Regions from separate parts of the Homo sapiens genome. Here regions 1 and 2 are each linked to region 3. Evidence: fine-mapped expression QTL. A gene starts in region 3. Each other region holds a variant in brackets. All regions are shown on one strand. Distances are from middle to middle.

Evidence for each region. PIP is the estimated chance that this variant, and not a neighbour inherited with it, causes the effect. A credible set is the group of variants that fine-mapping cannot tell apart.
Region 1: its variant is the best candidate, but not a certain one, in a credible set for the expression of CLEC12A in monocytes (Fairfax 2014, PIP 0.65).
Region 2: its variant is the best candidate, but not a certain one, in a credible set for the expression of CLEC12A in whole blood (INTERVAL, PIP 0.52).

Annotation. Positions count from the first base shown.
Region 1 is chr12:9,989,650-9,993,897 of GRCh38, reverse strand. It overlaps CLEC1B (C-type lectin domain family 1 member B), which reads left to right. Exons shown (of 6, transcript NM_016509.4): 6 at 611-823. The coding sequence ends at 755. It also overlaps a transcript of CLEC12A not described here. Among named protein-coding and RNA genes, the nearest start is that of CLEC1B, 7.3 kb to the left of the region's middle. The variant C/T (reference allele first, on the strand shown) is at 2,251.
Region 2 is chr12:9,908,321-9,912,568 of GRCh38, reverse strand. It overlaps a transcript of CLEC2A not described here. Among named protein-coding and RNA genes, the nearest start is that of CLEC2A, 22 kb to the left of the region's middle. RefSeq lists an enhancer at 1,200-2,399. The variant G/A (reference allele first, on the strand shown) is at 2,519.
Region 3 is chr12:9,968,798-9,973,045 of GRCh38, reverse strand. It overlaps CLEC12A (C-type lectin domain family 12 member A), which reads right to left and starts at 1,637. Exons shown (of 6, transcript NM_138337.6): 1 at 1,359-1,637. The coding sequence starts at 1,449.

The DNA of each region.
Region 1 (4,248 bases), 21 kb before region 3:
CTTTGTCACATAGTTCTGCAGGTATTCTCCAAATAAACCAATAAGTATATATTCCTTGTCATCTCATTATAAGCAGTTTAGAAAGAAAGAAATATAACTTAACAGACAATTACAATACAGCCTGCTGTGTTAGATGATTTATCTTGCAACATAAATCCTGATTTCAAAACTACTGAATCAACTCACTTTTCCATGAGCGTATTCCCATCTAGTGCAGCTACTTGTCCTGTAGGGCTCTTCCATCTCCTGTCAGTTCATCTGAGTCCTGACCTTCCATCAATACCGAACTAAAGTCTGATCTTGTAGATAATGCGTTTTCCCATTATTTTGGAGCCATCTCCATCACTTCTTCAGGGCTCCTATTGTACCTACTGTTCCCTTGCTCCTAATTTTATGCTAAATGAAATTGATATTGGGCTTTTTAAATATGCATATCTTGTACTGCCAAGCAGGGTGGAACTTTCTCAACAATGAGAATCGTTTTTTTTTTTGTTTTTTTTTCCTATTTTCCTCAGTCTCTATTTGGTGCATCAAACTACTATACGCAGAGTCTGATTACTGATTGTTTGCTCAGTTTTCAAAGGAATTTATTCTAACTTTCCCTTCACAGGTTTGAGTTTTTGGAAGATGGAAAAGGAAATATGAATTGTGCTTATTTTCATAATGGGAAAATGCACCCTACCTTCTGTGAGAACAAACATTATTTAATGTGTGAGAGGAAGGCTGGCATGACCAAGGTGGACCAACTACCTTAATGCAAAGAGGTGGACAGGATAACACAGATAAGGGCTTTATTGTACAATAAAAGATATGTATGAATGCATCAGTAGCTGAAAATTGCTTATTTCTCCCTTTCTTCTCACTGGAGTTATTTTTAATATTATCTTTCCTATCAGAATTACCTAGTCCCTTCTTTGAATATACAGAAGCCATCACGTGAGTTTATCATTTGCTTCCCAATTGTTCTATTTTCCTTTAATTTTCTTTCTTCTTGTCCTTCATTTCTAATTACCTGAACATGGTATGATTTACTGCATCTTCAGATATACACATATAACATCAAAATCAGGCCAATATAGGTTAGGGCTTAATTAATATAAGTTGTGCAAAATATCTATGTTTGAAATCTGTCCAAAATATCTAAGTTTGAAAGGCGGTGTAAGATAGTAAAAAGAATATTAAACTTAGAATCAGCAAAATAATTTAGATGTCAATTAACTAAATTACAATCATGAACAAGTTTCATAACCTCTTTAACTTCCCTTTTCTCATATTTAAAATAGGAATAATAACAACCATCTTTTATATCTCACAGTTCTACAACCTAAAATAGAACTTTAGAGTGTTAACTGTACCAGAAACTCCATGAAAGCGAACACTATGACTTCCCCATTCACTATTCTCTTACCAGCACCAACCCGAAACCCTGGCTCACAAAACAGAGAGATATTTGTTTCTCTTTGTATAAGATAGTTCATGAGAAAAATAGCTCAATCATTAAAACATTACGCAAATAGAATTACTATTCCAAGTCTACCTCTGGTTAGATTCAACAGTAGTAATTTTCTGCGCTAGAGAAGGAAAAGAAAGTTTGCAAGAAAACTCACTGGGTTTGTAAAATGAATAAATGCTTCTTAAGTTTCAGAGGCTACTAGACAGAAGGACAAGTAAAAATGCTTTAATTAGTATTTTCCTAACAGTTCTGTGCTTTATTTTTGCTGAGTAACTCAGGAAGTATTTACAGAATATGTGGAAAGGCACCCTTTTACAGGATAATAGGAAAAAATTGCATTTCTTTCCCACAGCTTCCCTTTTTTAACTAGTGGCTACCATTTACGAACATGATTCTCAAACATCTCAACGGAGGTTTTGGTTAAAACATAGAGAAACCAAATAGGAAACTCAAATGCTGATGTTACTCAGTGGGAAGACTGAGGAGACACAGAGACCTGGGTTTTTACCAGCATCACGACACAATTCTCATACAAGTAGTCTTTAATACAGTTAGAGAAATATCACTACTTTAGAACTTACTCTCTATCTGGCTTTGGATAAGTAATGTTCTCACCTTGAAATGGGTTTAATATTATTACCTTGCTCATAAGTTAATTGTGAAGCTCATTTAATATGATTATATAAAGTATCGATCAGAATACCAAGTATGTAATACATACTCAATAAATATGTGTTACTCTTAAAGCTTTGTGCGCTAACACTGAAAGACACTTGAATCTTTATCTTTTTTCTAGC[C/T]TATCAATAATTAAGCAGATTTGGAGGGCTTAGGAAAAATAATAGAAATACCTCAAATTTTACTTGTTACTTCAAATGTCTGGAGATCTTGGATTTGGGTGATGGTATCAGTATGTTTTTTATTTTGAATTGTCTATTTAGAGAAACTAAATAGGAACCAATAATTCAGAAAACTGTACAAAATTAGCAACTCAACTTTGTTTCATCTCCCTAAAATGGAAAAACATATGTGTATACATCCCTATAGCACACATAAACTTAGAAGAATAATATCTTAGTGCATGGCAACAATACAATTAAAAATGTAGGCCAATCACTGTGATTCTTTTTCTGGTATTCATATCTAAAGTATCTTATACATAAAATCAAAATAGCACAAACGTTAGTAGCACAGATCAGACCACCTCATTTCAAATACTAAATCTTCTACATGTCATCTAAGTGAACTCCAGCAAAATTTGACTTCTGTCTTCTTCAATTTAAAACTAACTTACAGGCATGCCTCGGAAATATTGTGGGTTCAGTTCCAGACCACCACAATAAAGCAATTATTGCAATAAAGTGAGTCACATTAATTATTTGCTTTCCCAATTCGTGTAAAAGTTATGTTTGAGCTACAACGTCTTCTATTAAGTATACAACAGCATTATGTCTGGAAAATGTACATAGTTTTATTAAAAATAGTTTATTGCTAAAAATGCTGATTATTTGAGTCTTTAGTGAGTGAAAATCTTTTTGCTGGTGTAGCGTCTTGCCTTGATGTTGATGGCTGCTGATGGATCACAGCAGTGGTTGCTGAAGGATGGGGTAGATGTGGCTATTTTTAAAATAAGACAATGGTGAAGTTTGTAGCATCAATTTAGTCTTCCTTTTATGAAATTTTTATCTGTAGAATGCGATGCTGTTAAATAGCATTTTACTCATCGTAAACTTCTTTCAAAATTGAAGTCAGTCCTCTCAAATCCTGCTACTGCTTTATCAACTAAGTTTATGCAATATTCAGAATACTTTATTAGCATTTCAACAATGTTCACAGCATGTTCACCAGGAATAATATTTGTCTCAAGAACCATTTTCTTTGCTCATCCATAAAAAGCAACTCCTCATTTGTTAAAGTTTCCTGATAAAATTGCATCAATTCAGCCACATCTTCAGGCTCCACTTCCAGTTCTAGTTCTCTTGCTATTTCCACCACATCTGCAGTTACTTCCACCACTGAAGTCTTGAACGCCTGCAAGTTATCCATGAGGGTTTGATTCAACTTCTTCCAAGTGTCTGTTAATGTTGACACTTTGTCTTCCTTCCATGAATCACAAATCTTTTTAATGGCATCTAGAATGGTAAGTTGTCTCCAGGTGGTTTTCAATTTACTTTGCTCTGATATATAAGAAGAATCAGTATCTGTGGGAGTTATAGCCTTATGATGTGTATTTCTTAAAGAATAAAACTTGAAAGTCAAAATTACTCCTTGATTTGTTGGTTGCAGAAAAGGATGCTGTGTTAGCAGGACTGAAAACATTAACCTCCCGGTACATGTCTATAAGAGCTCTTGGGTGACTAGGTGCATTGTCAATGAGCTGTAATATTTTGAAAAAAAGACCTTTTTTTTTTCTGAGCAGTGTTTCTCAACAATGGGCTTAAAATACTCAGTAAACAATGCTATAAACAAATGTGCTTTCATCTAGACGTCATTGTTTCATTCATAGAGCATTGGCAGGTACATTTAGCATAATTATTAAGGTCCCTAGGACGTTTGAAATGATAAAAGACTACTGGCTTTAACTTAAAGTCATCAGCTGCATTAGTCCCTAACAAGAGAGTCAGCTTGTCCTTTGAAGCTTTCAAGCCAGCCATTGACTTTTCCTCTCTAGGTATAAAAATCCTAGATGACATGTCTTTCCAATACAAAGCTGTTTCATCTAGACACCTTCAGCTATCTTAGCTATATCTTCTGGATAACTTGCTCCAGTTTCTACATCACAACTTGCTGCTTCATCT
Region 2 (4,248 bases), 60 kb after region 3:
CTGAACTAAGGAAAAGTCCTGCAACAATTTTGGCACATAACATGGGTGCTCGAGAAGAGGCGAATGAAATGAGGACTCGAAACCTCTCACTGTCGCTCCTATTTTCATCCTCCAGCTTCTGAGGGTGGGGGAAACATGCCCCCAAACCCTGTCACTCTAAGGGTCAGGGGAAAGGCCATTTTCTTCCTTTTTCAAGAGGGACAGGCAAGTGGGGTCTCCTCACTCTGCCTCCCCTCCATGCAGGGGTTGGGACTCACGGCCTAAGGGTCCTGCAGAGCCAGCTGGCTGGCTCCCAGCCATAAGCCACCACAGCCTTCCCCTTCCCCACCCAAGGGCTTCAGCTTTATTGGATGAAAATTAAGCTTTTCCCCTGGTGGAGCATCCACTTTCATAAGAATAAGAGGTTCTTCCCCAGGCATTTTAAACTGATTTTTTTATCCCCTTCTTCTACCCCATCAGCAGTTAACCTTTACATTTTTTTTTCCTTTTAGAGGACATTTTTACAAGGCCAGGCCCCCCAACTATCACTGTTTGTACTCTCTAAAGTTTTTGTTGTGAAAAAGGATTTGTGGGGCTAGTCTTGGGCTATAGCCAATCTGGTGTGCTTTGCATGTCTGTATGGTTTGTGTTGCAGGCCTCCATCTTGCTTTACATCCTGGGGGCATGGCCAGTAACTGCATGACAAGGCTTTGTTTAGCAGCCCTGCCTTAGGTGATGAGATATCTAACCCTATCAGGTTAGATATCTACATGTTCTCCTAGCCCTGTCTCTTAAAAAAAATGGGCCCAGGGACTGGGTTTTCTTCTGCCTGTCTGTGTGTATACTGTGTGTGATGTTTACAAAAAGAGCTCTAATTAATTTGTCCTAAAGAAAAGTGCTTGGATCAAGTATTTTTTTAAGGGGAAGATAAAAGCTGTGGTACTTTCAGTTCACATGACTTTAATCTTTGAGAAATAAAAACAGCCTTAAAAATTATTGGTAAAATGCAGGTGTCACTAAAATGTAAATAGGTGAGCTAAATTATGCAGGTTGGAGTCAAGGTTTGCTAAATGTTTTAAGGTTATAAACTACTTTTGGGGTTTTGAGAATTCTTGGACTTGCTGGCTTCACAACTGGTAAGGTCTGGCAACATATGGAACTAATCACACCATTAATTCATGCCAGAGAGGATAAATTCCTCTTCAAAGGGCTTAATTGTGCAATGTCCTTGTTCTTTGCTCAGAGGCTCAACCTTCTTGTACTCTCTTCTTTCTAGCCTGCAAACAGCCCTCCTGCTCTTGCTGTGCCCTGACATGCCTAGACATGTCAGCCTCACTCTACATTCCTTTCCTTATTTGGAAAAAGTTTAGCCTTATTCTCCACAGGTGGCCCTCTTCTCTTCCCTCCTTCTCCCCCATCACTCATCTACCTTACATAGAAGGTTTAAGTGTTTAGCCAATCAGGACTAGTTTAGGTTGTGTGGTCTTGACTCCAGCCAATGGGGAACTACACAGAAGCAGGGACCGTGTTAGGAATAAAAACTCTTACCCTCCTTTGTTCAGTGTGCTGCATGGCTGATGCAGGCAGCACCCTTCTGCAGAAGTAAATTGCCTTGCTGAGAAATCCTTTGTCTCAGTGCTGGTTCTTCTTTGCAGCACAGAGCACTTGTTTCTAACAATCATAGGGGCTCATCAGGGATACCCTTTCTCCTCTGGGGAAGGGTCCCAGATCATCTCCCATGAGGAGATGCGTCACACTCTCTCGTTGCGTTGGCCTCAGAGGGAAAGGGATCAGGACCTCCCCCAGCATGACGAATAAACCCACACTCTCAGCAACGTGGGTGGAAAGGATTCTTACCTACCTACCACGGCAACCAGGTAACTCTATGCACAGGACAAGGTAAGAAATGTTGCAGGGGCAATAAAGTATTTCCTTGGAGGTCGGGATATCTTGGAGGTTGAAAGTGTGTGAATGGTAACGAGCACTACTACTGTGCTGAGTGAGTACAAAACAAAAGGAGAAGATTGCAAGAAACATCCAGTAAAAGGGGAGCTAAGCTTCTAGGAGAAGAAAGGCAAGAAATCTCTAGTAGGAGAGATTGAGACTCACACACAGCTTCTAGAAGAAGGGAGGGCAAGAAATCTCTAGTAGGAGAGGTTGAGCCCCCACACACCCAGAAGCATTAGAAACCTCCAATAGAGGGGAGGTTGAAAACTCCAGGGAAAAAGCCTGCTCCAGTTAGACACCATACCAAACCTCCAAGATGGGAAATGTTTCAAATAAGACAGGGAAAATAAAGAGCCAGGCAGATGATGAAATTCCTCCTGATAGTTGCCTAGGGATTATGCTAAAATATTGGTAAGATAATAAAAGAACCAAACATAAAAGAAAGCAGCAAATGATAAAGTATTTTTGCTTCATTTGGGCTCGAGAGCCAATCCTCAAACCCTCAATTTTCTGGCCAAAATTTGGGTCCAGTGAAGAATGGATTTGTTAACTTTTAATGGAACATATTAATGACAAAAGCCCTGTGTCTCTG[G/A]AGGATATAGAGTATGCTCTTTGTTGGAGGCAAGGACCTGTCCTCCTTTACCCTCTAAAAATCAGAGGGAGCAAGCTAGAATCTTACTGCTCTGAAAGAGAAAAGGTCCCTATTCCTAGACAGCCCATCAACACATGGGATCCCCTAGACCATCTTCCTCCACTCAATACCCCCAATTCTCCCCCTCAAGCAGCTGTTGCCACCTCAGACCCCACTCCAGATCCCTCCCCTGCTCACATTGTTCCCCACCCCTTACAACCCCAATTCTTGGGAATTATCATCCCATGAGCCAGCTCCTTACCAGCCTAAATACTCTTCTCTAAAAGGACTCCAACGTGAGGTAGAGCAATGTAAAAAGGATATTCAAAACTTCCCTTTATCCCCTATCCCTGGGGAATCAGCTCTGACTCTCTGCCCCTTAAAAGAGGTGCTGCAGGGAGGGGGTGCCATCAGCTTCATAAATGCTCCTCTAACCAGTTCAGAAGTTCCAGGCTTTAAAAAAGAACTCAAGCCGCTGTGAGATGACCCTCATCGAGTGGCAGATCAGGTCGGTGATCAATTTCTAGGACCCCAGTTATATACTTGGGCTGAGTTAATGCCCATCCTGGGCATCCTGTTTTCAGGGAGAGAAAGGGGCATGATCCTTAGGGCCACTATGGTAGTTTGAGAACATGAACACCCCCCAGTTAAAACGTTTCTACAGCAGACGAGGAATTCCGTGCCCAAGATCCCTGGTGGGACAATAACAACATAGCTCACTGGAAAAACCTGCAAGACCTGAGGGAGATGATGATAAAAAGAACTCAAGAATAAGTACCCTGGACTCAGACTCTGTCTCAGACACTCAGCACACAACAGGGGAAGGATGAAGAGCCTATAGAATTCTTAAACAGATTAAAGGAGCAAATGAAAAAATAAGCAGGCCTAGATTTATAAGATCCCCTAGGACAAGGAATGTTAAAGCTTCATTTTTTTACTAATAGTTGGGCAGACATTTCCAAGAAATTACAAAAGATAGAGGATTGGAAAGATCATCCTCTAAGTGAATTTCTCAGAGAAACTCAAAAGGTATATGTGAGAAGATACGAAGAAAAGCAAAAAGTGAAAGCAAAATTCATGCTATCCACCTATCAACAGGGGGCTCCAAATCAATACATTTCTAAACAAAGCCCCCAGGGGGCCAAAATCTATAAATGACCCAAACCTCCATTTAGAGGCTTCAAGCCCCCTATTAAAGGATCCGGGACCTCATTTGCCAGACCCTATAAAGAACACAGGGGGGCCAAGCCAAAGAATCCCAAAACAGAGAAAAGACAGAATAGATGTTTTAAATGTGGAAGAACAGGTCTCTTTAAGAGGGAATGTCCCGCATGGGAAAAATAAAAAGAAGTCCTTCCACTCATGACTTTTGAGGAAGAATAGGGGGGGCCAGGGGCTCTGTCTCTTTTATCTCAAGTCCCACCAAGAGCCCTTGATAAACTTAGAGGTGGGACCCAAATATGAACTCATAACGTTTTTAGTAGATTCAGGAGCAGCCCGCTCCTCTGTTTCCCTCCATCTGATATCACCTGCTCCTCAGAACTTTCTGTCTCAGGGGTAAAGGGAGAAGGATTTAAAGCTAAAATCTTAGAAGAAACAGAAGTCAGTATAAAAACCGATCAACTCATATGAAGCTTCTATTAATCCTGGAAGCAGAAATTAACCTGTTAGGAAGGGACTTAATGCTAGAA
Region 3 (4,248 bases):
GAGATTAAGAACATGAAGAAGACATGGATTCAATATTTCCGTGAATTCAGGGAATTCTTGTGGTGGGAACTTAAGGTGGATTGGCAGGAAAAGAGGTGGGAAAGGGTGTGAGAGGACAAGTAAAGGGCAATTGTTGGTAATATTAGGCTCATGATATGCCCATTCTCTTTCAGTGTATAAAAGAAGAAATATAAACAAGGAAATAAAGACAGAAAATATTGTAAAATTCTTAAACCCTTCTTCTTTCTAAAAAAAAATTTCAGTATTAAAAAAGAAGCCAACAGAATTAATCTGCTATCCTTTCTCAAGATTTACAATGCTCATCATAAATGGATCCAAGATGTAACAGTGAAATTTCTGTTTATAGCAATGCTAGAATATTAAAGATGTTATATTCTGTGTGGGGAGAGGAGAGAGGACAACAACTTAAATAATATGTGAGAATTTTGGCACTCTTCTCTCCTTATTTTTCTGTTTCTATCACCCTTCTTTGTGTTCTCCACTATCACTGTTTAAGTTATTTTTAACTCAAATACACTGATTTAAACTATGGATTCGCTAGGGCAGATTTCACTCCCAAAAGGCTAGGAGCCAGAAGGCAAGAACCATACATAATAGGAAAACTATAGGATTCTGAGTAAGATGAAGAGTAGTTTTGTTTAAGTGAAAGTCAACACAGATGGACCACTTATTTCATGATTTTAATTTGAATTGAAAAATACAAAGTTACTTGATATAATGTGGTTTTGAATATTATGAATATATTATGTCTTCTGATATTTCTTTACCTCTTTTCTTCCTTTATTCCTTAATGATTCATTTCATTTAACTTAACATGTTTTATTTTTTAGTAAGTTAGTAAAAAATCTCCAAAAGAAGTAGGAGAAATTTTAGGGTGATTTATGCTTAGTTTGGTAGATAGTCAAATGAAATCCTATAAAGGTCTCTCTGTCTGACACAAAGCATTTTCTTATAAAAAAAAAAACACACACACACACACACATATGAAATCATGACTTTCCTGAACATGTTTCTTTTTCCATGGCTTCATCTCATAAAGAAATAAAATCTTCATACAACCCAATCATTTGAAAAATTCTGTCCCAATTATATTGAGTGTGATAATAAAAAATTTCAAAAATGTAAAAGATTGATTATTCAATGCAGAGATAAGTGTTTTTACAAAACCCTTTTTTCTAATCATTTTGTTCATACACTTTTTGTTCCTTTGCTTAAACATAAGAGACTTAATTGAAAATTTAAGTTGAATAGTAACTATATCACTAATATTGAAGATGCAAGTCTATAACCACTTCTATTATACAAACTTACAACACATCCATAACTCAAAATCTTACCTTTTTCCCCAAATTTGCCAATTTCTGGGATTTTTTCCATCTCACTGGAGTTCTGGAATTGAAGATCTGCATAAGTAACTTCTTCAGACATTGATGAATATGTAAAGAAATCTTGACAAAGTGTAAAAACACAAAAAGATGAGTGAGTTAACAGAGCTGAATGTTAAACAGGACCTATAATTTTAAACTTCTGTTTATAAACGGAAGCTTAAGCTTACAAGTTTAAACTTCTGTTTATAAACCTACTGTACCAATCACCCATATGTCTGCAAATGAGCCAAATCTCATCTGTGGCTTCAGTTAAGAACATTGAACTGTTGCAACAGATAACATCTTTCTTCCTCATATTTCTTCCTTTTTCTCAATTTCTATATATTTACCAACTACAGAAAGTAGTTTTTGAAATTGTGTTTGGATAACATCATCAGTGTCATGCAAGAGAACACAAATAACTAGCACCACATGGTGCAGACATAGTGTAGGATTTATTGGTGAAAAACTTTCAAGCAGAAAAATAACAGAAAAGATGCAGTTCTCAGACACTCACTAATCTGCAGCTGTGGCCTGGCATAGATATTCCTTTTGTATGATGATGAAGGTCCTGATAGAAGGGTTCTCTTCACTGGGAGACTGAACATACAGAGAGCACTCCCAAGGAGAATGAGACAGTTAGTGTCATTCCGTTGCCATGTTACATAGCTATAGGTTTGCCTAAGAGAGGTAGGGAATGCCTAGTTTCTCTAAATAACAATATATAGGTTGGTGCTAAAGTAATTCTGGTTTTTGCCATTAAAAGCAAAAGTAATTGTGGTTTTTGCCATTAAAAGTTTACAAAATTACTTTAGCGCCAACCTATATATTAAGGGATCTGATGCCCAGAAACCACACCAGAGAGTATGCATACTGATGGCCAAGGTCTGTATACTGAGGGCTCTGGAAACAGCTTTGCAGGCCAGGAAAACTATAATCAGCCTTGCTATCTCTCTACAGACTGACTCAACCATTTGATCTCCTCCTCAGCTAAGCTATCAAAAGTGGGAGGGAAATGAGTCTCCAAAGTCCAGATTTGTGTCTTATTAGTTTGACTCAATAGTCTTAGTATTTTTTATTTCACTTCTTGATCAAGAATGCAAGTGGAAGTGAGGGGGTGGAGAGGACTGTTTTTGAGCATGTTCTCTAATATTCGTTAGTAAATCTTACTTTAAAATTCTTCTTGACATTGCCACATGTAAATCATAAAATGGTTAGGTATTATTATTATACATATGAAAGAGAATGCATAAATATTTTTAAAAATCAATTAAAAACTAATTGCTTTATTATGTCAGGATAGACAGGAAAAACAAAATGCTCCCTTTATAAGAGCTACTAAAAATAAATAGGAAAATATTACAGATAGAAATTAACTAGATATTTGCATAACCAAAATGAACAAAAAAATTTTAAAACTATTGAAGAAAAGAAAAAAATAGAAAAACATGCTGTGGGATTAGAAGCGTCAATACTGTATAAAAAGAAACTAAATTCTCCTAAATGTATCAAAAATTCAATGTCAATTTAATTAAAACAACTGATTTTCTCCTGATAAAGAAAAAGCTATTGAATACATTTGAAAATATTACCATGAAAATATTGGCAGCCACATTTAAAGGAAAATATATTCAAAACATGATTACTTCATCCTAAGTACTTTACTAATGTTGCTTTTATCTTTACAACTCTCTAAACCAGGTGCTATTATTATCACCCTTATTTTACAGATGCGGAAGTGAGTTGCAAAGTGGTTAAGTTTGTATCCAACATCACACAGTTGGTGAGTGGTAGAGTTGAGACCATCAAAGTCTCTGGTTGCCTTGTTCAAATATGTGCACAGGCTATAAGGCCTCTCCTGGTGGGAAAGAGTAGCCCTCTATTTTTCCTAGGTGGATCAAATATTTGCATATAAATATTTGTTTATAAATATCTCTTTGTTTGTGAAAGGATGGAAACCGGCCACCACACAGGCAGAGTCCTGTTCTGTGTTCTATTGCTCTGCTGTCTCATGTGGAACGTTGTTTCATCAATCAACACTAGAAGATGAAGCGTATATGACGAACTGTAAAGGGAAACAAATGAAAAATCTCAAAGTCCTGTTTGCAAGGTACTCTATTTTGTTGAAAATATTTGAATAAGTATTACTTCATACAAAATCCTTGGTTTAGAGCCAGCTAAAACATTTATATCCACAAGAATAAGCTGAGCTCTGAGATGACTACATGGTTTGCCCTTCACAGCCTATATCAGTTTTTTAAAAATTTTGTTATTGATACAAAATAGTTGTATGTATTTTGGAGGTACATGTGATATTTTGAAACCTGTATACAATGTGTAATGACCAAATCAGGGTAATAAGAATATTCATTCCGTCAAACACTTACCTTTTCCTTCTGTTGGGAATAGTACATTTCTTCTCTTTTAGCTATTTTGAAATATACAATAAATTATTGTCAACTATAGTTTTCCCACTGTACTATCAAATACTAGAATTTGTTCCTTCTATCTAATTTTATTTTTGTACCCAACCAACTTATCTTTATCCCCCACCACCCCTTTCTAAGCCTCTGGTAACCACAATTCTACTCTCTGCTTCCATGAGATTCATTCTTTTAGCTCTCACATATGAGTGGAAACATGTGATATTTGTCTTTCTGTGCCTGGCTTATTTCAGTTAACATAATGACCTTCAGTTCCACTCCTGTTTCTGCAAATGACAGGATTTCATTTCCTTCTATGGCCAAATAATATTCCATTGTGTATATATACTATAGATACCTGCACTCCCATGTTTATTGCAGCACTATTTGCAATAGACAAGATATGAAATCAACCTATATCAATTTTCATTCTAGTT